Homo sapiens: one gene and its partners. The protein of the gene in region 3 interacts with the protein of the main gene of each other region in a pairwise test. Each region holds a gene or a part of one and is shown on either strand. Other genes may lie near its edges.

The links.
Region 1: the proteins of RIN3 (region 3) and SYMPK interact in a two-hybrid assay, tested with the Homo sapiens proteins (one large-scale study listed by BioGRID and IntAct).
Region 2: the proteins of RIN3 (region 3) and TM4SF19 interact in a two-hybrid assay, tested with the Homo sapiens proteins (one large-scale study listed by BioGRID and IntAct).
Region 4: the proteins of RIN3 (region 3) and ASB3 interact in a two-hybrid assay, tested with the Homo sapiens proteins (one large-scale study listed by BioGRID).
Region 5: the proteins of RIN3 (region 3) and SPATA12 interact in a two-hybrid assay, tested with the Homo sapiens proteins (one large-scale study listed by BioGRID and IntAct).

Annotation. Positions count from the first base shown.
Region 1 is NC_000019.10:45,855,579-45,862,670, forward strand, and holds part of SYMPK (symplekin), read right to left. Parts: intron 6,450-7,092; exon of another isoform or gene 6,322-6,449; intron 1-6,321. UniProt on the Homo sapiens protein: Scaffold protein that functions as a component of a multimolecular complex involved in histone mRNA 3'-end processing. Specific component of the tight junction (TJ) plaque, but might not be an exclusively junctional component. May have a house-keeping rule.
Region 2 is NC_000003.12:196,320,764-196,327,026, forward strand, and holds the end of TM4SF19 (transmembrane 4 L6 family member 19), read right to left. Parts: coding exon 6,192-6,263; intron 4,808-6,191; exon of another isoform or gene 3,678-4,807; coding exon 3,508-3,677; exon of another isoform or gene 3,235-3,507; coding exon 3,054-3,234; coding exon of another isoform or gene 2,951-3,053; 3' UTR 2,784-2,950; downstream 1-2,783. UniProt on the Homo sapiens protein: Negatively regulates vacuolar (H+)-ATPase (V-ATPase) activity by interacting with members of V-ATPase V0 complex and hence inhibiting V1-V0 complex assembly. Required for multinucleation during osteoclast differentiation.
Region 3 is NC_000014.9:92,684,781-92,687,137, reverse strand, and holds part of RIN3 (ras and Rab interactor 3), read right to left. Parts: intron 2,152-2,357; coding exon 1,988-2,151; intron 1-1,987. UniProt on the Homo sapiens protein: Ras effector protein that functions as a guanine nucleotide exchange (GEF) for RAB5B and RAB31, by exchanging bound GDP for free GTP. Required for normal RAB31 function.
Region 4 is NC_000002.12:53,774,958-53,782,049, forward strand, and holds part of ASB3 (ankyrin repeat and SOCS box protein 3), read right to left. Parts: intron 240-7,092; exon of another isoform or gene 1-239. UniProt on the Homo sapiens protein: Probable substrate-recognition component of a SCF-like ECS (Elongin-Cullin-SOCS-box protein) E3 ubiquitin-protein ligase complex which mediates the ubiquitination and subsequent proteasomal degradation of target proteins. Recognizes TNFRSF1B.
Region 5 is NC_000003.12:57,061,866-57,068,957, reverse strand, and holds part of SPATA12 (spermatogenesis-associated protein 12), read right to left. Parts: intron 1-7,092.

The DNA of each region.
Region 1 (7,092 bases), on a different chromosome or scaffold from region 3:
AAAGGAAGAAAAAAACAAAAAAATGAGAACAATCTCTAGACACTGATAGAGAGTGCATACATTAAGTGAAAACAAGCAAAGCTGAAGACAGTGTTGACTGTATGTTTCTGTTTTACAAAAAAAAAAGAAAAATGAGGCCAGGTGCAGTGGCTCATGCCTGTACTCCCAACACTTTGGGAGGCTGAGGCAGGCAGATCGCTTGAGCCTAGGAGTCGGAGAGCAGCCTGGGCAACATGGTGTAACCCTATCTCTACAGAAAATATAAAAATTAGCTGGGCATGGTGGCGTGCCTGGTAGTCCCAGCTACTCAGGGAGGTGAAGGCAGAGGCTGTAGTGAGCCAAGATCGGGCCACTGCCCTCCAGCCTGGGCAGCAGAGTGAGAACTTGACTCAAAAAAAAGAAAGGGGAAAAAATATATATGTTAAAAAAGGAAAAAAATCTGAAAGGATAAACCAAAAACCAGCAGAGGAAACAGGGTAAAAAAAATTGGTGAAGCCGGGCGCGGTGGCTCACGCCTGTAATCCCAACACTTTGGGAGGCCGAAACGGGTGGATCGTCTGAGGTTAGGAGTTTGAGACCAGCCTGGCCAACATGGTGAAACCCCATCTCTAGTAAAAATACAACAGTTAGCTGAGCCTATAATCCCAGCTACTCAGGAGGCTGAGGCAGAAGAATCGCTTGAACCCAGGAGGCGGAGGTTGCAGTGAGCCGAGATCATGCCACTGCACTCCAGTCTGGGACATAAAGACAGACTCCATCTCAAAAAAAAAAGGTGAATCTCAGTATATTATCCTGAAAAGAGGTCCCTGACAGCCTGTTGCATCAGAGGACAATACATGCAGTTCAAGCCATTTTTGTCAAGTATGTGTTTATGTATACGCAGAATGACCTGAGGCAAGACATTTAACTTCTCTGGCTCTCAGTTTCCTCTTCTAGGAAACAGGGATAGTAACAGGGCTTACCTCCCAAGACTATTTTGAGGATTAAATGAGTTAGTATATACAGTAAACATTGGCTAAGTATACTATTATTTTTATGTACATGGGAAAAGATCTGAAGGCTACTGCATAAACTGCTAACAACAATTATGATAATTAATAATAATTTGGCCAGCTCACGCCTGTAATCCCAGGATTTTGGGAGGCTAAGGTGGGAGGATCAATTGAGCTCAGGAGGTGGAGGATGCAGTGAGCTGTGATCCCTACCACTGCATTCCAGCCTGCGGACAGAGCAACACCCTGTCTCAGAAACAAACAGGCCAGGTGCAGTGGCTCACATCTGTAATCCCAGCACCTTGGGAGGCTGAGGTAGGCAGAACACCTGAGGTCAGGAGTTCGAGACCAGACTGGCCAACATGGAGAAACACTGTTCCCTACTAAAAACATACAAATTAGACAGGCATGGTGGCGCATACCTATAATCCCACCTACTTGGGAGGCTGAGGTGGGAGAATCACTTGAACCTGGGAGGCAGAGGCTGCAGTGAGCTGAGATCACGCCACTGCACTCCAGCCTGGACGAGAATGAGACTGTCTTAAAAACAAAACAAGGCTGGGTGCGGTGGCTCACACGTGTAATCCCAGCACTTTGGGAGGCCAAGGCGGACGGATCACGGAGGTCAGGAGATCGAGACCATCCTGGCTAACAAGGTGAAACCCCGTCTCTTCTAAAAATACAAAAAAATATGCCGGGCATGGTGGCGGGCGCCTGTATTCCCAGCTACTCGGGAGGCTGAGGCAGGAGAATGGCATGAACCCGGGAAGCGGAACTTGCAGTGAGCTGAGATCACAACACTGTACTCGAGCCTGGGCGACAGAGTGAGACTCTGTCTCAAAAAAAAAAAAAAAAAAAAAAAAACACACACTAAACAAACAAACATGCCAAAAAAACAATAATCTGAGGACGGTGAAAATGATACTTTTTTCTTTTTTTGAGATGGAGTCTTGCACTGTCGCCCAGGCTGGAGTGCAGTGGCGTGATCGTGGCTCACTGCAAGCTCCGCCTCCTGGGTTCACACCATTCTCCTGCCTCAGCCTCCCCAGTAGCTGGGACTACAGGCGCCTGCCACCACGCCCGGCTAATTTTTTGTATTTTTAGTAGAGACGGGGTTTCACCATGTTAGCCAGGATGGTCTCGATCTCCTGACCTCGTGATCCGCCCGCCTTGGCCTCCCAAAGTGCTGGGATTACAGGCGTGAGCCACCGCAACCAGCCGAAAATACTTTTTTTTTTTTTTTTTTAGATGGAATTTCACTCTTGTTTCCCAGGCTGGAGTGTAATGGCACAATCTCAGCTCACCGCAACCTCCACCCTCCCAGGTTCAAGCAATTCTCCTGCCTCATCTCCCAAGTAGCTGGGATTACAGGTATGTGCCACCACATCCAGCTAATTTTTGTATTTTTAGTAGAGACGAAGTTTTACCATGTTGGTCAGGCTGGTCTCGAACTCCTGACCTCAGGTGATCTGCCCACCTTGGCCTCCCAAATTGCTGGGATTACAGGTGTGAGCCACAGCGCCCAGCCGAAAATGACACGTTTTTTAAAAGGAACTACCCAATAGCTATTCACAGTAGTATCACATGATAGGGGTCTCCTCAATGAATGACGAGCCACAGCCTCCTCCCTAGTTTCCCTGCTGCCTGTCACCCCCTATCTTGCTCAGGGTCAGGGCCAATGTCCCCATCAAGGCCTACAAGATTTTATGGCATCTGGCCTGTTCTTCCTCTGACTGCCTCTCCCCCTGGGCTCTTTGCTCCACCCACTCTGGCCTCCTCGCTGTCCTGTGAACATGCCCAACATGCCCCTTCCTCAAAGACTTTGTGCCTCTCTTCCGTCTGCCTGGAATATTCCTCCTCCTAGATATCAGCACAACTCCTTCCCTCTTCATTTCCTTCAGGTCTCCACTCACATGTCTCTGCAGTAAGGTCTTCCCTGACGACTATGTTTCTTTTTTTTTTGAGACGGAGTTTCCCTCTTATTGCCCAGGCTGGAGTGCAATGGCGTGATCTCAGCTCACAGCAACCTCTGCCTCCCAAGTTCAAGCGATTCTCCTGCCTCAGCCTCCCTAGTAGCTGGGATTACAGGCATGTGCCACCACGCCTGGCTAATTTTGTATTTTTAGTAGAGACGGGGTTTCTCCATGTTGGTCAGGCTGATCTCGAACTCCCGACCTCAGGTGATTCGCCCGCCTTGGCCTCCCAAAGTGCTGGGATTACAGGCATGAGCCACCGCGCCCGGCCGACGACCATATTTCAAATTTTAACTTCCTCTCGATCCCCATCTGTGTTGCTTTTTCTCCATAGCATTTATCATCATCACACACTACATATTTATAAGTTCCACGAGGACAGTGATTTATTTATTTGAAATCATTTTTTGGTAGAAGCAGAGTTTCGCCATGTTGCCCAGGCTGGTCTTGAACTCCTGCACTCAAGCAATCCACCCTCCTTGGCCTCCCAAAGTGCTTGGGATCACAAGTCTCAGCCATCGCCCCCGGCCTAGAACAGGGATTTTGTTCCTTCACTTTTTATATTCCCAGCACGGAAGAGTGCTTGGCACCTAGCAGGAGCTCAATAAACATCTGCTGAATGAGTGAACACTACTGCCAAACGGCCTCCCCAATCACTGGGTTCAGTATTCCTGCCCTTTCACTCTTGAATCCTAATAGCTATACTTGTTCTACTTTTTCCCCCTTTCTCACTACTGCACTTGACAAGTCTTTAAAAAAAAAAAAAAAAAAGGGCATGGTGTGGTGGCTCACTCCTGTAATCCCAGCACTTTGGGAGGCCAAAGTGGACAGATCACTTGAGGCCAGGAGTTCAAGACCAGCCTGGCCAACATGGCAAAACCCAGTCTCTGCTAAAAATACAAAAAAATTACTTGGGCATGGAGATGGATGCCTGTAATCCCAGCTACTTGGGAGGCTGAGGCATGAGAATTACCTGAGCCTGGGAGGCAGACGTTGCAGCGAGCCGAGATTGCGCCACTGCACTCCAGCCTGGATGACAGAGCAAGACTCTGTCTCAAAAATAAAACAAAACAAAAACAAAGAAAGGAAAGAAAACAAAAATAGGACGGGTATAGTGGCTCACAATTGTAAACCCAGCATTTTGGTAGGTCTAGGTGGGAGGATGGCTTGAGGCCAGGAGTTCAGGACTAGCCTAGGCCTAAAAACTAAAAAAGAAGGCCAGGTGCAGGGGTTCATGCCTATAATCCCAACATTTTGGGAGGCTGAAGCAGGAAGAGTACTTGAGGCCAGGAGTTTGAAACCAGCCTGGGCAACACAGCGACACACCATCTCTAGACATATGCACAATTAGCTGGGCATCGATATCATGCCACTGCTCTCCAGCCTGGGAGACACGGTAAGACTCCATCTAAAAAAAAAAAAAAAAAAAAAAAAAAATTAGCCAGGCATGGTGCCATGAACCTTTAGTCCCAGCTACTCTGGAGGCTAAGGTGGGAGGATTGTTTGAGCCTGGTTGTAGTGAAGTATGATTGGGCCACCGTAGTCCAACCTGGGCAACAGAGCATGAACCTGATGAACCTGTTTCCAAAAAAAAAAAAGAAAAAATAATCAGTTAATATATATTGAACACGGCCGGGCACGGTGGCTCAAGCCTATAATGCCAGCACTTTGGGAGGCCAAGGCGGGTGGATCACCCGAGGTTAGCAGTTTGAGACCAGTCTGGCCAACATGGTGAAACCTCATCTCTACTAAAAATACAAAAAAATTAGCCAGGCATGGTGGCAGGCACATGTAATCCTAGCTACTCGGGAGGCTGAGGCAGGAGAATCGCTTGAATTTGGGAGGAGGAGGTTGCAGTGAGCCGAGGTCACATCATTGCACTCCAGCGTGGGCAACAAGAGTGAAACTGCGTTTCAAATTAAAAAAAAAAAGAAAAAAAACCCACACACACAGAGAGAGAAAGAGAAAGAGAGAGAGAGAACACTTAATATGTGCTAAGCACAATTCTAAGATATACATATTAACTCATTTAAACCTCAGACACCAAGGTTTAAATGAATTAATATGTATATATTAGAATTAATATACATGAGTTAGGTTTACATTTTTTGTTTTTTTGAGACAGGGTGTCACTCTGTTGCCCAAGCTGGAGTGCAGTGCCGCAATCTCAGCTCACCGCAATCTCTGCCTCCCGGGCTCAGGCGATCCTCCTACCTCATTTTCCCAAGTAGCTGAGACTACAGGCGAATCCCCATTTAATTTTTGTACTTTCTGTAGAGAAGGGTTTCGCCATGTTGCCCAGGCTGGGAGTTAGTATTTTTAATTTTCATTTTACAGATGAGGAAACTGAAGACCAGGGAGGTAAAGTGACCTGACCAAAGGCATATAGCTTGTAAGAGGCAGAGTCAGCAGCATGGCTGCATATCTTCCTTACCACTATGCTACAGTACTGTTTATCTGAAAGGAATTGTTTTTTACCCCCAGGTCTGTTTACGTAAGCCAAGGATCCTGGCCACCAGACAACCGGCATGGCATGCCGTCCCCAGTCAAAACATAAAAAAAACAGGCCGGGCATGGTGGCTCACACCTGTAATCCCAACACCACTGCACTCCAGCCTGGGCGACAGAATGAGACTCTGCCTCAAAAAATAAAATAAAATAAAATAAAACCCCATAATAAACATTTCCACTTTTTTCATGATAATACATTCAGATCAACCAAAATATTTTACCCTGTTTCATTCTTCTTCTGCTTTTTGGTTTATGCTTTCAGTTTTGTTTTGTTCTTTTTTAAACACACATACACAAAATTCTCCTGCAGGAGCTAGATTTTATGCAAAAAAAGGAAAAAAAATGAAAATAAAAAAACCCATATATACATATTTCCCTTTCATTTACAAAAAGAGCATACACAGGGCCGGGAGCGGTGACTCACGCCTGTAATCCCAGCACTTCGGGAGGCGGAGGCAGGTGGATCACGAGGTCAGGAGTTCAAGACCAGCCTGACCAACATGGTGAAACCCCATCTCTACTAAAAATACAAAAATTAGCCAGGCGTGGTGGTGTGCCTGTAATCCCAGCTACCTGGGAGGCTGAGGCAGGCGAATTGCTTGAACCTGGAAGGCAGAGGTTGCAGTGAGCCGAGATCACGCCACTGCACTCCAGCCTGGGTGACAGAGTGAGACTCTGTCTCAAAAAAAAAAAAAAGGAGCCTACACAGGCCGAGTTTGGTGGCTCAGGCCTGTAATCCCTGCACTTTGGAAGGCTGAGGTGGGCAGATCACTTGAGGTCAGGAGTTCAAGACCAGCCTGGCCAACACAGAGAAACCCCGTCTCTACTAAAAATATAAAAATTACCTGGGTGTGGTGGGGCACGTTTGTAATCCCAGCTACTCGAGAGGCTGGGGTGGGAGAATCACTTGAACCAGGGAGGTGGAGGTTGCAGTGAACTGGGATCGTGCCAGCCTGGGCGACAGAGTGAGACCCTGTCTCAAAAAAAAAAAAAAAGAAAAAGCATATACAATAAACACCAACCTCCACTTCACTTGTTTTCCCTTAATATATGTTGGAGGCCACTATATCAGTGTATAGAGATTTTCATCATTTCCTTTTATCTACCTCATTCCTTTTTAGAGTTGCATAGTATTTTTTATGTGGATGTATTATAGTTTCTTTCAGCCAATCTTCTTATTTAAGAACATTTGGGATGCGTGTAGCCTTTTGCTATGATGAACAGTATCACTGTTTCCCCTTCCCTCTCGATGTACTCGTTAAGAAGTGGTACCCTGCCCCACTGCTACCTAGGAATCTGATGACTACCCTGTTTCCCCAAACTGGCTCTAGGAGTATCTTTTATTCCTTCAACGAACATTAGCTGGGCGTCTCCGGCGTGATTGGCGCTGTGCTGAGAACACAGTGGCGACAGAGACAAACCTAGTCCCTACCTTCATGGAACACACGGTCATAGACATCATAAAACAGCACACAGATAAGAGTCGGATAACAAATTAGACCACACGTGACATGAAGGAACACGGACCGACAAAAGCATTTAACAGGCGGATTTCTGGATGGAGGGCAGGGAAGGAGGGCTTCGCAGAGGAAGTGACGTTGGTGCCGAGACCCGAA
Region 2 (6,263 bases), on a different chromosome or scaffold from region 3:
CCGCCTCTCGGGTTCAAGCAATTCTCCTGCCTCAGCCTCCCGAGTAGCTGGGATTACAGGTGCACACCACCACACCTGGCTAATTTTTGTATTTTTTATAGAGACGGGGTTTCACCATGTTGGCTAGGCTGGTCGTGAACTTCTGACCTCATGATCTGCCTGCCTCAGACTCCTAAAGTGCTGGGATTACAGGTGTGAGCCACTGCACCCGGCCTCTTTTTTTTTTTTTTTTTTTTTTTTTGTGAGACAGAGTCTCTGTCCCCCAGGCTGGAGTTCAGTGGTGCAATCTCGGCTCACTGCAACCTCTGTCTCCTGGTTTCAAGCAATTCTCCTGCTTCAGCCTCTGAATAGCTGGGATTACCGACATGCACCACCACGCCCATATAATTTTTGTATTTTTTGTAGAGCTGAAGTTTCACTATGTTGGCCAGGCTGGTCTCAAACTCCTGACTTCTGGTGATCCACCCACCGTGGCCTCCCAAAGTGCTGGGATTGCAGGTGTGAGCCACCGTGCCCGGCCAGAGCCTGGGGTTCTCAAACTCGTTTCTGGGGACCGCCCACCACTTTTCTTGCCAGTGCCCATCTTCCAGGTTCCTCCCAGGCTGCTTCTGCCTGCCTTGTCCTCTTCCTGCCTGTCACACCACACTCTCCCACCAGCATCTTCCTCATTCCGCTCTGACTCTCCTCACCACCCAGCCCGACCTGACTGAAAACCCCGCAGTGGGAGAGCAGGAGGCCCCTGCTTCTAGGTGCCGTGTGAGAAGCAGCTGTGAGGTCGGGTTGGGTGGCTCACGCCTGTAATCCCAGCACTTTGGGAGGCCGAGGTGGGCGGGTCACAAGGTCAGGAGTTCAAGACCAGCCTGGCCAATATGGTGAAAACCCATCTCTACTAAAAGTACAAAAAAAATAGCCAGGTGTGGTGGCGGGTGCCTGTAATCCCAGCCACTCAGGAGGCTGAAGCAGGAGAATCGCTTGAACTTGGGAGGCAGAGGGTGCAGTGAGCCGAGATCATGCCACTGCACTCCAGCCTGGGCAACAGAGCGAGACTCCATAAAAAAGAAAAAGAGATTTAATTGGCTCACAGTTCTGCAGGGGTTACAGGAAGCATAGCACCCACATCACTCAGCTTCTGGGGAGGCCTCAGAGAGCTTTTACTCATGGCAGCAGGTGAAGAGGGAGCAGGCGAGTCACATAGTGAGAGCAGGAGCAGGCGAGAGAGAGGCCAGAGGTGCCACACGCTTCTAAATGACCAGATCTCGCGGGAACCCACTATCACAAAGACAGCTCTGAGCCGTGAGGGATCCGCCTCATGATCCACACACCTTCTGCCAGGCCCCACCTCTAGCACTGGGGATCACAATTCAACATGAGATTTGGGTGAGGACAGATATCCAAACTGTGTGGACAGAGGTGATGCTCCTCTACTTGTTGAACTCTTGAACACTAGTGAAGAGAATGCTGGTGTATTAGTCTGCCAGGCTGCTGTTGCAGAATACCATGAACTGGGCACTTAAGCAACTGAAATAGATTTTCTCACAGTGCTGGAGGCTAGAAGTCCAAGATCCAGGTGCCAGCAGGTTTGGTATCTCCTGAGGCCTCGCCCCTGCGCTTGCAGACAGCCGCCTTCTCACTGGGTCCTTACAGGGCCTTTTTCTTTGAGCCAGTGTAGAGAGCTCTGTTCTTTCTTCCTCTTTTTATAAGCACACCAGTCCTATTTAATTAGGGTCCCACCCTATGGCCTCATTTAATCATTTGTTGTTGTGTTTTTTTTTTTTGAGACGAGGTCTCACTGTGTTGCCCAGGTTAGTCTCAAACCCCTGGTCACAAGTGATCTTCCCACATTGGCCTCCCAAAGTGCTCAGATTACAGGTGTGAGCCATTGCGCCCAGTCTCATTTAACCTTAATTACTAATTTAAAGGTGCCATCATGGCCAGGCGCGGTGGCTCACACCTGTAATCCCAGCACTTTTGGAGGCCAAGGTGGGCGGATCACTTGCAGCCAGGAGTTCGAGACCAGCCTGGCCAACATGGTGAAACCCCCGTCTCTACTAAAAATACAAAAATTAGCTGGGTGTGGTGGCACATGCCTGTAATCCCAGCTACTCAGGAGGCTGAGGCAGGAGAATCACTTGAACCTGGGAGGTGGAGGTTGCAGTGAGCCGAGATCACGCCACTGCACTCCAGCCTGGGTGACAGAGCGAGACTGTCTCAAAAAAAAAAAAAAAAAGTGCCACCACCAAAGACTGTCATATTGGGGGTTAGGGCTTCAACCTACAGATTTGGAGGAAACACTATTTAGTCCACAATAACTGGAGAAGTTGAATTTAGAAGATGGGGGTTGGGGCCAGGCACAGTGACTCATGCCTGTAATCCAGCGCTTTGGGAGACCAAGGTGGGAGGATCACTTGAGGTCAGGAGTTCAAGACCAGACTGGGCAATATAGCGAGACTCCCTCTCTACAGAAAATTTAAAAATTAGCCAGGTGTAGTGGTGTGTGCCTGTAGTCCCAGCTACTCGGAGGCTAAGGCAGGAGGATCGCTTGAGTGCATGGGTTGTAGGTTACAGTAAGCTATGATTGTGCCACTGTACTCCAGACAGGGGAACAGAGCAAGACCCTGTCTCAGCAACAACAAAACAACAGGGAGATAGGGGGTCAGGTGCTGACTTCACCTTAACTTCACTGTGTGCTTTTACAGCAAGCCTGTTACCCTCTGTGAGCCTCAACTTCTCTATGTGTAACAAATGGCCAACTTTATGGGATTGTCAAGAAGCTGAAATGAGACCCTGGCTGGAGGATATTTTATGGACTATAAATTCCTAAACAATTATAATAACTTAGTTATTTATCCTATCCATGGATCACCTGGAAGTTTACAATGTGATTTAAAATGCATTCTATCATTCCACCGACCTGCAGTGAATTTTGTTGTCATTATTACTCCAGGGATACCTAAAGGGGAAGTTTGTTTATAATTCGTACCCACTCCTTGTAGAAAGGATTCAAGACAGCCGATGATGAAAACACCCATGCTTGCAAGTGAAGGTTCTGCCTGTCACTTCTCGCAGAGGCTGCAGAAAAGGCCCAGGAGGCTGTTGATGACATGAACGACCACCAGGAGAAGCTGGAGCAGGCTGATGCACAGAAGGGCGGAGAAGAGGGACACGTGCCAGACAACAGCTGCAGAGGGCTCCAGGCAGACGGAGTTCCAGAGCGAACGGTCATACAGATAATTCCTATCCCAAAAAATAAGGAGACCAGGGGTCAGGCGATAAGTAAGGAAAGCCAAACAGGCAACCCCAGTAGAAAACTGGGGTCTCCCCTGACCGGGTCATGGGACTGGGCTCATGAGGGTGACCGTTACTGCTCCATTTGCAATTTTCTGAGTATCAGAGGAGCAAGATGCTAGGATGTGTGACCCAAAGGAGCTTGTAGTTCGTCTGTGTGTCTTTTTGTCTCTCTCTCTCTCTCTGTCTGAAAAGACCAAGCCCAAGCCTCCACCCATTTACCTACTATGCAGGTCTTTGAATGGGTAACCATATTTCCAAGCTTGTGTCTGATTGAAGGATGAAACATCAAACATGCAAAAAGGACCATCTTTCAGAGCAACTCCAGAAGTGACAAAGCAAATCAGGGCTCCAAGTAAAGCCAGGCCACCTGACAACAGAGCAGTAAGCACCTGCGGAGGGAGGAGAAACACTGAGCTAAGACGGGGTCGCAGCTGGGGAGCCTGCGGAGGGAGGAGAAACGCTGAGCTAAGACGGGGTCGCAGCTGGGGAGTCTGTGGGGCGGTCTGCACAGGTCTGACTTCTCTGGTCTCAGTGTTCTTCCGTCCTGTCATGGGGGAGAATTCTGTCCATGGCACCCCCTTTGAAGCATAACCCATGGTGGGGAGGCCGTGAGGGGTTTCTAGGAGAGAAAGGACCAAGAAGCAGAATCGCAGGCCCCGGATCTCCCTGACCGTGAGTTCGCCTGAGCTGCTCAGCAGCTTGGCATCACAAACCTTTTGCACATTACAGCCATTCAGCCTCTGAGCTAAAGAAGAAGCTACCACAGGCCCACCACTGACTCTTCTAAGGAAAAGCTGCATTTTCAAAAGTTCCAGGTTCCCAACTCTGATTCTTCTCTATTTCAAATCAAGGATAAAAAAAAGGAAGGGAGGGAAGGAAGGAAAGAAAGAAGCAGGAAAGAAGGGAAGGAGAGAAGTGGGAGGGAGGGAAAGAAGGGAGAGAAACAGCGAGAGAGAAGCTGCAGCCAAGCTCTGAAATGACTCCACTTCTGTCGCTGTGTTTCTCCAGCTGAGAGCTTTCTTGGCCATCAGTCTGTGCTCCCACTGCCCTCCCAGAAAATAACTGGGTTTCCTTCCTTGACAGGTTTCTAGCCTGCTTCTACATTGGCTTCTTTCTCGTTCCTTCCTTCCTTCCCTTCCTTCCTTCTTTCTCTCTCTCTCTTTCTTTTTGAGACAGAGTCTCACTCTGTCGCCCAGGCTGGAGTGCAGTGGCACGATCTCAGCTCACTGCAACCTCTGCCTCTGAGTTCAAGCGATTCTCCTGCCTCAGCCTCCCAAGTAGCTGGGACTACAAGCATGCGCCACCACACCCAGCTAATTTTTGTATTTTTAGTAGAAATGGGGTTTCACTGTGTTGGTCATGCCGGTCTCAATCTCCTGACCTTGTGATCCACCTGCTTCAGCCTCCCAAAGTGCTGGGATTACAGGCATGAGCCACCGTGCCCGGCCCATATTGGATTCTTTCTTAGGGTTCTAGATTTTTTTCTCCCTCCCCCAAAAATGCCTATTTTAAAAATGTGAATAACACCTACATAGCGTTTTTCTGCAGAGTCATGGAGTCATTCTCCCACTGAGGTCAAGCTGGTTTGGAGTTGGGGAGGGATCAGACAAAGGTGCATAGTAAGTTTTGACTCTGAGTTAAAGGAGTCAAGATGAATCAGTAAGCCTAGGGCAGTGGTTCCCAAAATGGGGTCCCTGCCCAGCCGCATCACATCACCTGAGAACCTGTTAGAAATGCAAAACTTCCCCGCCATCCTGAATCAGAAACTCTGGGGAGGGAGCCCAGCAATCCGTGTTCCGGCAAAAGCCCTCCAGGTGATTCTCATGCACATTCAAGTGTCAGAACTACGTGCCACGGGGAAAACCAGAATGAGAACAGACAGTGAATGAAATGTGCAAGTGTTTATTTATTTATCTATGTACTTATTTATTTATTTATTTTGAAACGGAGTCTCGCTCTGTCGCCCAGGCTGGAGTGCAGTGGCGCCATCTCGGCTCACTGCAAGCTCCGCCTCCCGGGTTCAAGAGATTTTCCTGCCTCAGCCTCCTGAGTTGCTGGGATTACAGGCGCCCACCACCACGCCCAGCTAATTTTTGTATTTTTGGTAGAGACGGGGTTTCACCATGTTGGCCAGGCTGGTCTCAAACTCCTGACCTCAGGTGATCCGCCCATCTTGGCCTCCCAAAGTGCTGGGATTACAGGCGTGAGCCACCGCGCCTGGCCTATATTTGATTTTTTAACATGTAACTGAGTCAGTGGGCTTCCCAACATGTGGGCTGCAGATATCAGAGCAGGCTGTGGAGTTACCATAAGGCCACAGATTCATGTCTGAGAACGAGTGTGTGTGTGTGTGTGTGTGTGTGTTTGTTACACACACATATACTGAGATCTTTCAAGTTTATACAGTTGCTGCTGTAATTAATAAGGTAGAAATTTATTCTGGGCCTCAGTTTATCTGTAAAATGGAGGGGTTAGATTAGAATCTAGTGATTAGATGATCTCTGGAAAACTTTCCTGTTCTAAGAAAATATTAGTTAAAATAACTAGGAAAATTTCCATCAATGACACATGATTACAGTGTCATAACTCATGTCCATATTGTCCAACACCCTAAGAGAGTAACAGTTTCTCACACTGGTACAGACGTCTGGGTCCTCACACTGGTACAGACGTCTGGGCTTCACTAAGCACTACTCCCTTGACTTGATCAGCTCCCATTTTACAGATGAAAGCCTGAAACTGGAAAGATGAAGCAACTTGCCCAAGAACTTAGCGTTACTGAGGGTCACAGTGAGGACCTGACTTCAGGCCCCAAGACCAAAATTGCCTCTTTACCGCCCTGCCTCTAGAGTAATAGAGGTGGAGACATTCTGGGTGTTAGAAGAGTGGAATCTGGTGCTTACGCTTCGACAGAGCCCACTCTTACTGAAGCAGCCGTATCTCCAGCCCATCAAGGAGATGAGGATAGCTGCAGT
Region 3 (2,357 bases):
GGCCCGGAGCGGCCTCGCCTTCCCCGGGGCTCAGGGCTGCAGGCAGAGAGGCTGCGCGCGGGGCTGCCCCCTTGTGGCCGGATTGGGAACAGCAGGCCTGCGCGGGAAGCGGCTGAGGATCCCGGCTCGGCGGAGACCGTGATGGCAACTGGTGGCTAGGGCTTAGGCGAGGCCGGGCTCCTGTCAAGAGCTTCACGGGGACCGCCCATTTCTTCCAGGAGGGGAAAAGCCCGGCCCACTCCCTCCGTCTTAGTGGCTGCCTCAGGGCTCCTTGTCCTCCATTAGGCCTCCCAGGGCACTATCCACCTGCTAGTGACTGTCCAGCTCTGGGCTTCCCCTCCCCAGGGAAGGGTGCCCACCCCCCAAGGCATGGTGTGCGGAGGAGGCACTGGGAGGGGGCAGAGGGTGGTGCCCTCCCCAGATCCCAGATGTGGTGCTGAGGGGACCCCCCTCCGAAGCTTCCGTCTCCCAAACAGTGGGTGGTCCGTTTCATCCATACTCTGCCTGGCTCAGCATCAGGAACCCCTAAGGTAGAAGCAGGAAGTACGGGATGCCTGGGCCAGGCTTGGACCAAGAGTGTCCATGTCCCTACAGTCTGTGGGAGTCCGGGGTGTTGGGAGGGGATGGGAACAGAGGTGTGCTGGAGCTGGCTCACACCCGCCAGGGAGAGCCGACTGCATACACTTCTTTCCAACTCCACATTCAGTGATGCCAAGTTGAAGTTGGCCATGGAGGACTCACACCATGGAAATGGACAGAAGCTAAAATCAGAGCTTTTGTTTTCTCCCCAGAGAGTCAGTTATTAAATTGATTAGCCATAGTCAGCCTGTGTGGGCAGGAAAACTGAGTCCCAGAGTGGGGCAGGGATTGCTGAGGGTCACACAGCAAGCTAGTACAGGGCTGGGGCCAGAACTCAAGCCTCCTGTCTCCCAGGCCTGGGCTCTGCTTATTATAGATGCACCATCTTGAAAGCCAGGAGTGTGGCTCAGGACTGGTCTGCTCTGGGTGTCAGAGGAGTGAGTCTGCATAGCTGCTCACAGCTCTGGATGTGCCTGGCTCACTAGTCCAACTCTCACCCTTTTTTACACACCCAGTCCTGCTCTGTCCCAGGCCCTGGGCTTGGCGCCCCTGAGGCATGTGAACCATGGGCTGTGCCCTCCCAGAGGTGACAGCTTCATATGCAGAGGATGATAGGATGTGATATGCACTGTAAAAGGGGAGGCCGCAGGAAGCCCAGAGGAGGGCACCCCACCCAGCCTGTGTGAAACGGTGTGTGTGTGTATCAGGGAAGGCTTCTCAGAGGAGGGGCTGTTGGAGAAACTGAGTCGTCTTAAAGGATGGGCAGTGACAGCCAGTGAAGAAGGGGAGATTGACCAGTGAGGGCAGCGGTTGAGCAGCCAGTGAACTGGGCTGGGCATGTTTGGGGAACTGGGGGCAGCTGGATTTGATGCAGCCTGGGGGTGGGTGGGGTGATGGAGTTGGGGAGGGGCGGGACTGGTTTGAATACTGAGTCTGTATAGAGAGAGGTATGGGGAGGGGTGGGCCACTGGGTTGGTGGGGGTTACGCAGACCCTTGGCAGCTGCTGCATTTGTCCAGGGACTAAGGAGCAAGGCTGTAGATGAGCCTGTGGGCTCCTTAAAGCAGGGACTGGGATGACAAGTCCCCATCTCCAGCCCCTGCAGGGTGCTGGGTCCTAGGAGGGGCTAAGGAATGATGGGTGTGTCTCATTCCTCCTGCACCCTTCCTGCTTGCCCAGGGAGAACACCAATGCCTGCTGATATGTTTCTAGACGCACCCAAGTCCTGGACACACACTGGCAGCAGGGGCTGGGGGCCCTTCCTCTGGTGTGGGGAGTCTCACTGCTCCCCTAAGGCAGGGCTGGGCGGCTGGAGCAGCCAGGTGATGTCACGGCTCCTTAGCCAGCAGGCAGCAGGGATGGTGTCTGGGACATGGCCCCACCGGGCCCCTCCCGCTCTCAGGCCTCACCTGTACGGAGGAGCGGGAGGCCCGGGCCTTGTTGAGAGTACGCCGGCGCTCCCAGCGGTGGATGGAGTCCTGCACCTCCACACTCAGCTGCCGGGTCACCGTGATCTTGTCGTAGCTCTTGATGTGCTCCAGGGCCCCGTAGGTGGTGGTCAGATAGTAGGAACCTGCGTGGACAAGGGTGTGGAATCTGAGCCAGGACCGCCTCCGCCCACCAGAGGCAAGGAGCTTGGCCTGCCCCACCCACCTCCTCCAAGCCCCGCCCACCACCTCTGCTTGAGGCACATCTGCAAACACCTGCTTCAACAGCTGAGCTCAACCCCACGCCCACCCTCCAGCCTCAGAAAGTTTCCTAGAGTCCAGCCCTGAGCTG
Region 4 (7,092 bases), on a different chromosome or scaffold from region 3:
ATGCTTAGAAATACACAATAATATGAACAGTATTTCAGCCTTAATTGTGAATTTCCTTGTTATTCAAGTATTAAATGAAATCTTTTGAGTTTTTAGCCAAAAATTGGCATTTTTAAAATACGAAAATTTCCTTGGAATTATAATGTACTGTACCTCTTCTTTTTTAAATAAAGGCATTTTACTATATGGAAAATAACTCACTAAAGCATAAATTACATTATACAAATCATGATCACTAATGATGTAGTCTGTCATTCACTTTGTATTAATCTTATACCAAAACTGAAAAAGATGGGCTGATACTACAAATTAATGGCACATATAATGAAAATTTAGTTTTTAAAACAGCTTTTGGAATTCTTTGTCTGTCACTATCTCAATTTGTGTGTGTGTGTGTGTATATACATATATATACATATAAAATTTTTTTTTTCTTTGCAGCCTGCGTCTGGCCATCCCACAGGCTGGAAAGTGTAACCTCTGGCAGAAGCCAAGAACAGGCACCTCCTGGAATTATAATTTTGTTTTGTTTTTTGAGACGGAGTATCGCTCTGTTGCCTAGGCTGGAGTGCAGTGGTGCCAACCTCAGCTCACTGCAGCCTTCACCTCCCAGGTTCAAGGAATTCTCCTGCCTCAGCCTCCCGCGTAGCTGGGATTACAGGCATGTGCCACCACGCCCGGCTAATTTTTGTATTTTTAGTAGAGACGGGGTTTCACCATGTTGGCCAAGCTGGTCTCGATCTCCTGACCTCAGGTGATCCACCAGCCTCAGCCTCCCAAAGTGCTAGGATTACAGGTGTGAGCCACCATGCCCGGCCTATAATTTTTTATTTGTACAAATTTATGGGCTACAAGTGCCATTTTGTTACCTGCATAGATTGTATTTTTTTAAGAAGTGGCATTACCTGATTATTTGTACGTAACTTTTTTCTTTATTTTGTCACCTAAAGAAGAGTATCAATTGGGTGTATGCTGCTACTCAACTAGGAAACAAGTTATTAACTCACATAGAATTAACTTTGATTCAAACCATTCAGGTTATTCCTGATTATAGGTTATTTCTTTCTCAAGAGGACATATAATCTCTCTAGAATCTTTCACCATAAGAACTTCAGTATAAAACTAAACACAATATACTTACTAAAAGCTCCTTAAACTCAGGCATGACTAATAATTAGTACAGAAGTTTTTCACATAAAGCTGTCCTACATGTCCTTTTCATGTTTTCCTATTTATTAACATCTTAGTAATTTACTCAGCTACATATCTACTTTAAATATCTTCCAACATTTTAAATATTAGTTTTCCAGACGGCATTTCACTTGTCCTGTAAAACAGAAAGGGTGATAAATTTATTAAATTTCTAATTTACCATCCCTGGTTCTTTCTTTCCAGGCAATTAGATGATAAATGTGCTTTAAAATTCTCTTCATCACATCACGCTAAAAGTTACCTATCAAATGTTCCTGTTATGCCTATCTTTTTTCAGCAAAAATACTGACTGTATTGTCTATTAATTTATTCAGCTTTTGGCAATCTATTTTTATGGATTTCTAAAACCTTGAATTTGGCCAGTGTAGTGGCTCACACCTGTCATCATAGTACTCTGGAGTGCTGTGATGGGATGCTGTGAAGGGAGGATCACTTCAGGTTAGGAGCTAGAGACCAGCCAGAGCAACAGAAGAGCACCATCTCTATAAAAAATTTAAAAATTAGCCAGGTGTAGTGGCATGCACCTGTAGGCCCAGCTACTCAGGAAGCTGAGGCAGAACTATTGCCTGAACCCAGGAGTTCGAGGCTGCAGTGAGCCATGATCACACCACTGCACTCCAGGCTGGGCAACAGAGCAAGACCCTGTCTCAAAAAACTAAAATAAAACCTTGAATTCACTCTAAGCATATATTACAGACTCAAAGATTTTGTAATCCTGTGGCTACTATGTTGAAGAATTTTAACTCTTCCAAAGACAATTAAAATACCAAAATTTTTCTTCTGTATGTCAAATTTATATGATGAAAATTAGCTTTATTGGATTTCAGGGACTTTTCATTCCTATGGTTCATTTTACCTTTCTAAAATACTATATTTCAGTTTCATTTTCTTGGTTGTTTTACTTAATTGTACTGAGCCTCCTTCTCTTTATAAATGGTTCGCCCACACATGTACACACACTGTAACTGGAAAAACCACCACTAATCCTACAGTTTCTTGTGTTCTTCCAGCTTTCTTATTCTTCACAGAAATTTTTTAACTACACAGTGCTTCACTTCCTTATCAACTCGTCTTAATCCCTTTCCAATTCAACTTTACTCTGCCATACCACCCAATCATTATAGTATCAAGTCTCCAATGACCACTTCCTCACTGAACCCAAAGATTGCAATTTTCATGCTTCTCTGGTGCATCAGACACTAGTGATCAAGCATCCCATGTCACTAAAGCCAAAGACAAAAACATTTCATTGTGTTTCCAGTTACAACTCTTACACTATTCTTTATCAAATACACAAACTCATCAAATCCTAGGCTTCAATTTTACTTGGATAGCTTCCAATCTCCAGCCTACTCTCTCAACCTCTTCATATGTCTGTTACATGAAGGCATCTCCAGTTGTGCTACACAAGCATGGAAACTTATTGTACTAAAACCAGTACTCATCTCCTTTCCCAACCAGAAAATCTGGTCCCACATTACCTCCCTGTACATAATACACATTAAACGTTGAACAATACTTAGTCCAGGAGAAAAATAAACAGGTTTATGATACTCATATCAATTTATAAGCTTTTGGAGGAAATAGATGGTATTTTCACAATATACACAAAATGTGTTTGTGCCTTTTTATTAAATTTTACCCTTTGTTTTACTAAAAACAATATAACATTTTTTAAAAAGTGTAAGCAATCTTGGCCAGGTGTGGTAGCTAACGCCTGTAATCCCAGCACTTTGGGAGACCAAGGCGGGTGGATCGCCTGAAGTCAGGAGTTCGAGACCTGCCTGACCAATATGGTGAAACCCCGTCTCTACCAAAAATACAAAAAAATTAGCCAGGTGTGGTGGCGGGCACCTGTAGTCCCAGCTACTTGGGAGGCTAAGCCAGGAGAATTGCTTGAACCCAGGAGGCAGAGGTTGCAGTGAGCCAAGATGGCGCCACTGCACTCCAGCCTGCGCAACAGAGCAGGATTCTTGTCTCAAAAAAAAAAAAAAAAAAAAAAAGAGTGTAAGCAATCTTTAATTGGAGGCCATTTGGCTAAGATGGTCCTAGGACTCTGGGTTCCTATGTAAGCAAACTGAAGCCCAATGTAAACAGTGAAACAAAACTTAATCTTTGCTTTTTATTTTTTAATTATAAACTGACTATAGTTATATATTTATGAGGTACAAAGTGATGATTTATGAATACAATGTGGAATAATTAAATCTAGTTAACATATCCATGACCTCAAATTTTTTTTGTAGTGAAAACTTTTAAAAGTTACTCTTAGCAAGTATAAAGTACATTATTAGTCACTATATTCACCATACTGTGCAACATATCTCAAAGAAAAAAATTCCTCCCCTTTGACTATCATCTCCCCATTCCCCCATGCCTTCCCTCCAACCCTGGTAACCACTGTTCTACTCTCTGCTTCTTTTAGTTCAACGGTTTTAGATTAAATATATAAGTAAGCACATATGTTGTTTGTCTGCTTGTACTTGGCTTATCTCATTTAGCTTAATGTTCTCCAATCCATCCATGTCGTCACAAATGACAAAGTTTCTTTCATTTTTAAGGCTGAATAGTATTCCACTACGTATGTACACCAGATTTTTCTTTATCCATTCATCTGTCTAAGGACCCTTAGGTTGATTCCGTATCTTGGCTATTGTGATTAATGCTGCAATGAACATGGGAGTGCAGATATCTCTTCAACATACTGATTTCCAATCTTTTAGGTAAATACCCAGAAGTTGGATTGCTGGATCATATGGTAATTCTATTTTTAGTTTTTTGAGGAACTGCCACTGTTTTCCATAACGGTTGTACTAATTTACATTGCCATTAACAGTGTACAGAGGTTCCCCTTTCTCCACATGCCTTGCCAACACTTATCTTTCATCTGTTTGATAGTAGCCATTCTGACACATATTGGGGTGATATCTCATAGTGGTTTTAATTTGCATTTCCCTGATGATTAGTAATGTTGAACATTTTTTCATGTATCTGTTGGCCATTTGTATGTCTTCTTTTGAGAAATGTCTATACAGGTTCCTTGCCCATTTTTTAACTGGATTATTTGTATTCTTTCTATAGAGTTATTTGAGTTCCTTTTATATTCTGAATTTTAATCCCTTATCTCATGTATGGCTTGCAAATATTTCCTCCCAATCCATAGGATGTCACAACTTAATTTTAATCAGAAACCAACAACTATTCTCTAACAAGCAACTTTCTGCCAGATTGTACCCAAATAAGACAAACAAGTAGCTATGACAATCAAGTAATTTTTTTTTTTTCAAGACAGGGTCTCGCTCTGTTGCCCAGGCTGGAGTGCAGTGGCACAATCACAACTCACTGCAGCCTCAACCTCCCAGGCTCAAGCAATCCTCCCACCTCAGCCTCCCAAGTAGCTGGGACTACTGGCATGTGCCACCATGCCTGGCTAATTTTTGCATTTTTTGTAGAGATGGAGTTTCACCATGTTGCCCAGGCTGGTCTTGAACTCCTGAGCTCAAGTGATCCACCTACCTCAGCCTCCCAAAATGATGGGATTACAGGTATGAGCCACTATGCCCAGTCCAATCAAGTAATTTCTTTACTTCGCTTCCACATTCAGCCTGCAAAGGTCTGCCGCTTACTCTGTTAAAACAAGAGCTCCCTGAACTACTTCTAATTTTGGGTGCTGCCAAATTCATTAATCCTTTAACACAAAAACAAATTCTGATAAATTGATTTCGTCTAAAGTTTTTCTTTTAACAAAGTCAAAATGAAGTTACCAAGGAAGCCCTGAAGGCTTTTTGTGATAAGGCTTAAAAGATTACATGATAGTAAAAGGTTACATGCTGAAAGATTCTCAACTAAAGAGCCTTATCATACATCAAGAGCCAGAGTTTCTTACATATTCTTCTTGTTTCCAATCTCTTTTCCTCTTTCCAATACACGCTCTACTGTGCACTCAGAATTACTTACCTAAAATATGAAACTGAGGTCAGTAATCAAAATGTCTTCCTGCTGCATATAAAATAAATTCAAATCCTTTAATCTGGCATTCAACTACTTACCATCTGGTCAATCTGGTATCAGTGTATTTGTCAAATTTCACTTCCCACTGACGTACTCCCCTGCCCCTCATGCTCCAATCACACCACCCTCCTCATTCTTTAAGACCTAGCTCAAATGAGCGAACTAATGTTATGTGGCAAGCAATGACTATGCACTGAGACCACCAAAATAAATAAGATAGTCCCCGGCTATCAAGAATCATATTTGGTGGAGAAACACACAAGCAAACAAATCTATGTTATTTAATATAAAAGATGTGATATAAAATACAAGCAGAGGGGTGGGTATGGTGCTCGTGCCTGTAATCTCAGCAATTTGGGAGGCCAAAGCAAGGGGATCACTTGAAGTCAGTAGTTTGAGACCAGCCTGGGCAATATAGTGAGACCATGTCTCTACAAAAATGTAAAAATTAGCTGGGCATAGTGGCACATGTCTGCAGTCCTAGCCACTCTGGAGGATAAAGCAGAAGGATCTCTTGAGCCCAGAAGTTCAAGGCTGCAGTGAGCTATCATAAGGCCCCTACACTTCAGCCTGAACAACACAGCAATACTCTGTCTCTAAAACTAATAACAAATAAATAAAATACAACCAGAATACAGAAAGGCAAATTACCAATTCAAAGTAGCAGAATCAGAGAAAGCTTCATAGAAAAAACAAAAAGGTGTTCATGTGTCAGAGAATAATGGTTAACACTTATGTAGCACTAACTATATGCTAGATTCTATTCCAAGTGCTTTATGTATATTAACTCATTTAATCCTTATTTTCTACGATGATGAAAATTGCTTAAGTAAAACAAATGTAGTATCATTTATTGAACATTTACAACATGCCAGGAACTGTGCTAAGCACTGAACAGGAACAAAATGAAATTAAGGCCTACAATTTTAAAAAGAACAAAAAAGGAAGCCGGGCAAGTGGCTCACACCTGTAATCCCAGCACTTTGGGAGGCTTGAGGGGGCAAATCACTTGAGCCCAGGAGTTCAAGACCAGCCTGGGCAACATGGCAAAACCCTATCTCTTACAAAAAATACAAAAAAAATTAGCCAGGCGTGGTGGTGCACACCTGTAGTTCCAGCTACTGAGAAGGCTGAGGTGGGAGGATCACTTTAGCCCAGGAGGTTGAGGCTACAATGAGCCAAAACCATGCCATTGCACTCTAGTCTAGGCAACAAAGTGAGACTCTGTCTCCAAAAAAAAAAAAAAAAGTGAGAGATGGTAGTTATCTCATTTTGTACCTCCATTGGTAGGGCTTAACCCCTTTGAGATTCTTTCCATTTTTTTTTTCTTTTGAGACAGAGTTTCACTCTTGTTGCCCAGTCTGGAGTACAATGGCGCCATCTTGGCTCACCACAATGTCTGCCTCCCAGGTTCAAGTGATTCTCCTGCTTCAGCCTCCAGAGTAGCTGAGATTACAGGCATGAGCCACCACGCCTGTCTAATTTTCTATTTTCAGGAGAGACAGGGTTTCTCCAGGTTGGTCAGGCTGGTCTTGAATTCCCAACCTCAGGTGATCCGCCTGCCTCAGCCTCCCAAAGTGCTGGGATTACAGGCGTGAGCCACCACGCCCGGCGGAGATTCTTTTTTAATTAGGACAAAATAAAATAGGACTTTTTAAAACAGGATTTAAAAGATTCACCTAATTACTTATCTCCTACAGCCATAATTTTCTTTTTAAACAACAGTATGCCTTGCCCAATTTTTTCAACAGCATTGATTTATTCAACAAGTACTGGCTGGGTGCCATGGCTCACATCTGTAATCCCAACACTCTGGGAAACCAAGAATTCAAAAAATAAAAAAATTAGCTAGGCAGGCTGGTGCACACC
Region 5 (7,092 bases), on a different chromosome or scaffold from region 3:
ACAGCGAGACTCGGTCTCAGAAAAAAAAAAAAAAAAAATCAGATCTTTTGCCTTAGCAGATTCCCTTATTTAAGTTGTTGGAACCGGCAGTTCATAGGGATTTTGTTTCCATCCTTTAGTGAGGGGGGTGTGTGCGTGTGTGTGCACATGGAAAGTTAGGGGAAAAACACAATGATATAACCTAACCCCAAAACAAGGAAGCACGTTACACAGTTGAGGTTTGGCGCTTCAGTTCCTGCCCAGTCTCAGAAGGTACAGCTTGGCTGACCTTGTGTGACCTATCTCTATGACACATCTCCCAAGGGGGTGGGGAGGACTGTTTCTCTCCAGCATGGCTTTAGTTTTATAAAAGCCCTGTGCAGTCTTGCAAACTCAAATGGTTTTCTTAACAAATCACTCACATTTCATGTGTTCTGGGCTGGGCAGGGCCTCGCTAATCCTTGGCCAGCTTTGTGAGTCAGAAATTATTTAAATGATTGCCTGAGTCCTTTTGAGGCGAGAGAATTGGCAAGTTAATTTAGGGAGGTGCAATGACTCTTAAACAGCACTGCAGTGAGTGGCAGCATTGATAAATGTGTTAGAAGCTCTATTTTATTGTGATAATAAATGCTAATGAAGAAAATGAACGTATTACCTTTTAGAGTGAGATAAGAATGATGATGCTACCAAATTTTATTAAGCATTTATTGTGTGGTGGAGTATGGTGGCTTCTCCCATGTTTTTGACTGTGACCTATTGTAAAACATAGACTGCAACCTGGTAACCTGGTGTGTGTGTGTGTGTGTGTGTATGTGTGTGTGCGCGCATATCTGAATTATTTGGTGAAACAATAGTTACCCTATGCGTGTCTAGTGTCCTCTGGGCTCAAGTGATCCTCTTGCCTTGGCCTCCAGAGTAACTGGGACTACAGGTGCATGCCACCACACCGGCTAATTTTTTGTTGTTGTTTGTTTGTTTTTGTTTTTTTTGAGACGGAGTCTTGCTCTGTCGCCCAGGCTGGAGTGCAGTGGTGTGATCTTGGCTCACTGCAAGCTCTGCCTCCCAGGTTCACGCCATTCTCCTACCTCAGCCTTCTGAGTAGCTGGGACCACAGGAGCCCGCCACTTTGCCTGGCTAATTTTTTTGTTTTGTTTTTTTTTTTTAGTAGAGACGGGGTTTCACCGTGTTAGCCAATGGTCTCGATCTCCTGACCTCATGATCCGCCCGCCTCGGCCTCTCAAAGTGCTGGGATTACAGGCATGAGCCACCGTGCCTGGTCTCACGCCGGCTAATTTTTTAAATTTTTTGTAGAGACTGGGTCTCTCTGTATTACCCAGGCTGGTCTCAAACTCCTGGCCTCATGTGATTTTCTGGCCTCAGCCTCCCAGTGTGCTGGGATTACAGGTGTGAGCCACTGCACCCACCCTAAAGTTGCATTTGAAAACAAATATATCTACTATGATAGCTTTGATCAGTATATAGACAAATATTATTATTATTATTATTATTATTATTATTATTATTTTGAGACAGAGTCTTGCTGTCACCCAGGCTGGAGTGCAGTGGCGCAATCTTGGCTCACTATAAGCTCTGCCTCCTGGGTTCACGCCATTCTCCCGCCTCAGCCTCCCGAGTAACTGGGAGTACAGGCGCCCGCCACCACGCCCGGCTAATTTTGTTTTTGTATTTTTAGAAGAGACAGGGTTTCACCGTGTTAGCCAGGATAGTCTCGATCTCCTGACCTTGTGATCCACCCGCCTTGGCCTCCCAAAGTACTGGGATTACAGGCGTGAGCCACCGCGCCTGGCCGACAAATGTTATTCTTTCTGGGTTGCCATATTTTGTGGTTTTTAAAAAATATATTTTTATTCATTTATCTGGTGACTTGAAATTTCATGCAAGTACAGGTCCTTACAGACAATTTCTATTGGAAAATCACTTATTTTGGGTGTGTATTAGGGTTTGGAGAGAAACAGAACCAACAGGATGTGTGTCAATCAATCGCTCATCTATCTATTGAGAGGTTGATTTTTAGGAATTGGCTCATGTGATTGTGGAGGCCAGGTGAGTCAAAAATCAGCAAGGTAGACTGGCAGGCCGGAGACCCAGGGAAGAGTTGCAGTGAGCCCAAAGGCTCTCTGGGTAGAATTCTTCCTGCTCTGGGAGGTCGGTCTTTTTCTATTAAGGCTTATAGCTGATTGGATAAAGCCCACCACATCATGGAGAATAATCTGCTTTACTCTAAGTCCACTGATTTAAATGTTAATCTCATCTAAAAAATACCTTCACAGAAATGTCTAGAATGTTTGACCAAATAGCTGGTTACCATGGTCTAGCCAAGTTGACACATAAAATTAATCATCACAGTGGGTAAAATACTGTTTGAGGTTGTTCAGAAGAAAGGAAAAAGGCAAAAGCCTGGGCGCGGTGGCTCACGCCAATAGTCCCAGCACTTTGGGAGGCCGAGGCGGATGGATCACTTGAGGTCAGGAGTTCAAGACCAGCCTAGCCAACATGGTGAAACCCCGTCTCTACTAAAAATACAAAAATTAAGCCAGGCATGGTGGCGGGTGCCTGCAATCCCAGCTACTTGGGAGGCTGAGGCAGGTGAATCGCTTGAACCTGGGAGGCGGAGGTTGCGGTGAGCCAAGATCATGCCACTGTACCTGGGTGACAGAGTCAGACTCTGTTTCAGAAAAAAAAAAAAAGAAAGAAAGGAAAAGTGTAATGGTTGGAAGTGGAAGTGTGCTGTTGGTACAGATAGGAGAACATTTCGGAAAGAATTCCCTCCCCTTTGATTGACTGCAAAATAAGTCCCTCCCTTGTTCTCTTGCAATTACAGGTGGACCAGATGGGTGGGCAGATTGGCAGTGGGGGTGCAGAGTTTCTTGTTCTGATTGAAAGGATTTTTTCTTACATTTTAGGGTTTTTTTTTTTTGTTTTGGAGACAGAGTCTCACTGTGTTGCCCTCCTGGCCTCAAGTGATCCTCCTGCCTCAGCCTCCTGAGTAGCTGGGATTACAGATGTGAATTACTGTGCCCAGCTCTTAGATTTCATTTTAAGACTGAAGACCTGAGAGTTCATGGGCCTAAGTAAAAGGTGCCATTTATCTGCAACAAATTGGTGCATGCTCCGTAGATCTAGCTGTAGGGGGCTGTGTGTGCTAATGCAGCATTTGTGACTCAGCCGTAATGAGGATGACCTTGCCTCTCCTGTTCCGCAGGCTACCACCTAGCTGTGGTGGGTCACTGGCCACAGAAACTGTAGGTATCTGGGGCTGCCTGGGTGGGAACTCAGCCTGTATGAGAACATGGTATTTGGAAGACATTAAACATTTATTATAGCTTTTATTTTTATTGAGGTATAATTAACATACCACAAAATTGACCCTTTTCAAGTACCCAGTCTGTTTTTTAGCACATGCATACGGTAGTGCAGATATCACCACTAGTTCCAGAATATTTATCATCCTAAAATACAGTTTTTCTTTTGCAAGTAATTTCTTTTTTTTTTGTTTTGTGATGGAGTCCTGCTCTGTTGCCCAGGCTGGAGTGCAGTGACATAATCTCAGCTTACTGCAACCTCTGCCTCCTGGGCTCAAGTGATTCTCCTGCCTCATCCTCCTTAGTAGCTGGGACTACAGGTGCACACCATCACACCCGGCTAATTTTGTATTTTTCGTAGAGATAGGGTTTCACCATGTTGGCCAGGCTGGTGTCGAACTCCTGACCTCAAGTTATCTGCCCGCCTCGGCCTCCCGAAGTGCTGGGATTACAGGCGTGAGGCGTGAGCCACTGCGCCCGGCCTTTTGCAAGTAATTTCAACATTTAAGACCATGGCCTACTGGATTGGTCCCATCAGCAAATAAACATGCAGTTATTTCTCCCAACTTAAAAACAGCAGAACCCTCTCTCCACCCTACTTCTCCCTACAGTTATACACCCATTTCTCTTCAGTTTAGAGCAAAACTTTTTGAAATAATTTTCTGGACTTACTAATTTTTTGCCTTCTATTGTGTCTCAAAAAATTGTGATAAAACACACATAACGTAAAATTTACTGTGTTGACTATTTTTAAGTTTTCAGGTCAGTAGTGTTGCGTATACTGATATTATTGTGCAACCAATCTGCAGAGCTTTTCATCTTGTGACACTGAAACACTGTATCCATTAAACAGCAACTCCCATTCCCCCCTGCCCCTAGTCCCTGGAGACCAGCATTCTACTTTCTGTCTCTGAATTTGACTGTTCTAGATACCTCATATAAGTGGAATCATGCCATATTTGTCCTTTTGTGACTGGCTTATTTCACTCAGCATAATGTGCTCAAGGTTCACCCATGTTGTAACATGTGTCAGAATTTCCTTCCTTTGGGCTGGGTATGGTGGCTCATGCCTGTAATCCCAGCACCGAGGAGGCGGATGTTGAGCCCAGGGGTTCAAAACCAGCCTTGGCAACATGGTGATACCCTGTCTACAAAAAATACAGCAATTTGCTGGGCGTGGTGGCATGCACCTGTAATCTCAGCTACTTGGGGGCTGAGATGGGAGGATCACTTGAGTCAGGGAAGTTGAGGCTGCAGTGAGCCGTGATCTTGCCGCTGCATCCCAGCCTGGATAACAGAGGGAAACCCTGTCTCCAAAAAAAGAAAAAAAAAGAAAGAAAAAAAAAAGAAAGAATTTCCTTCTTGGTTTTTGGTTTTCTGTTTTGTTTTTTGAGACGGGGCCTCACTCTGTCACTGATTGCTGCAGTGGCACAATCTCAGCTCACTGCAACCTCTACCCCCCAGGCTCAAGCAATCCTCTGACCTCAGCTTCCGGGTTAGCTGGGACTACAGGCATGCACCACTATGCCCAATTAATTTTTTTGTATTTTTGGTAGAGACAGGGTTTTGCCATGTTGCCCAGGCTGGTCTCGAGCCCCTGAGCTCAGGCAGTCCCCCTCCCTGGGCCTCCCAAAGTGCTGGGATTACAGGCGTGAGCCAGCACAGCTGGCATGGAATTTCCCTCCTTTTTAAGGCAGAATATTATTCAATTCTATGCATTTGCCACATTTTGTTCTACCATTCATCTGTCATGGACACTGAGTTGCTTCCACCTTTTGTCTATTGTGAATGATGCTGCTATCCCATTCTCTTTTGAGCCCCTCATTTCAGGCAGGCTTGGCTTCCACTCCCCTCTCCCCAGATATCTCTTACCAAGGTCTACAGTGAGTGCCTGGTTGCTCATCCCAATGGCCTGTTCTCTGTTGCCATCCTTCCTGACTACCAGCAGCGTGTGATGGAGTTGGTCACTTTCTCTTCCTCGAAGCCTTGTCTCACCTGGCTTCTAGGATGCCCGACTCTCCTGATCCTCTTCCCACATCTCTGTTAAGGAGCACCCCAACCTCCTGGTTGCTCAGGCCCAAAGCCTGGGGCGTCATCTTTGACTTTTGTATCTCTCTTCTCTTCACTTGTCAAAAGACTCTACTTGTAGAGTGGCCACTGCTCCCCTCCCGCTCCTACCACCCTCCAGGTCATTCTCCCCTCTCACCTGAATGACTGCGGCCTCCAAGCCTCTGCCTTTACCTCCTTTCAGCTTGTTCTCAACTCAGAGTCAGAGGGAACCTTCTGAAGGGTTGGCTACTTCTCTGCTCAAAGCCCTCAAATAGCTCTCATTTCACTGCAACAAAGCCAAAGCCTTTAGGGTGGCTGGCTGCAAGGCCCCATGTGATCTGGCTGCATTTCCTCTCTGACTCCTCTCTTAGTTTGCCCTTCCCCCTCATAACCGCACTCTAGCCACATCACCTCCATGCTGTTCCCTGCGTGGGCACCTCAGGGCCTTTGCACCTGCTATTCCCGCTGCCCAAAATGCACCTCTCCCAATATCTGCAGAGCTTGGTCCCTCATTTCCTTCAGCCTTCCCTGGTCATCGTGTCTAAACCGTTACCACTGCATCCCAACTTCCCCTTTGCCTTCATTGCTTTTTCTCCTTACACTATCGTTATCCAATATAAGGTGTATTTTGCTTATTTATCTTGTCATCTGCCTCCCCCACTAGAATGTAAATTCCATGAGGGCAGGGATTTTTCTTCTATTGTGTTCCCTGTCATGTCCCCAGTGCCTTGCCTGGTACAGACAATAATTTGTTGAACCCGTAAAGAAAAGTTTGGTAAACAGATTAAAAGCCATTTGATTCTTCTATTATGATATAATTCTTGCCTATATTTTTCTTACCTGTGAATTATTACATATGTGTATGTATGTGTGTGTGCATGTTTGTTGTGTGTGTGTGTGTGTGCATGTGTGTAGACAGAGAAACAGCGAGTCCTGTCATTCCCACCAGATATTCCTGCTTGTTAAACAGCTACATAGTGTTTTGCTGAGTGGCTAGAGCAGCTTTATTTAACCTTGTTTTGTTCAGTACTACTGGGCAGCTTCCAATCTTTTGCTATTGTAGATTATGCAGCATCTGTGCTGGGCACTTGCCCTGCTTCCTTCCCTCTTCTCTGAAAGGCTTCCCCATGCTCCTGAGCACCCCCCGCCCCCGCCGCCGTGCTCCTGAGCCTAGCCTGAGCCCGAGTGGGGGCTGTGGTCCTGGCTGGGCCTATCATGGTTCCCCTCCCCTCGGCTGTGGTAGCCGGTCTGGAGCTAGACACAAGCCACCCTTGCCAGGCTGTGGGCTTCCTCAGGGTCATCCTAACCCACTCAGAAGTGGCAGAGAAGGTGCTTGAAGGCACTCACCCAGCGCTAGAGCAGTGAGGACAGGCCCAGAGTGTGGAGCTGCGAGGGGAGGGTTGGGCACATTGCCTTTGGATCTAGTCACATGACTGAGCTGCTCCAGGGATCTTCCTACAAATCCCCCTTCTCACCCATCTAGATGGAGTTGGATTTCTCACTGCTAGCAGTGAGTCTAGACAGATCCAATCCAGTGGAGCATCCCTGCCCCACTCTCTTTTTTTACTTGATCCTTAGTCCAGAGCAAGGAAAGATGTGGAAACCCTCCCAAAGGCATTATTCAGGGCAGAAAATGCTTGTAGGCAGAGCAGCACCTTGTTTTTGTCACAACCGGAGAAACAATTTAAATCTGAACCTATGCGGGCTCAGATACTGATGCTGCCATCTGAGAAGGAGGACC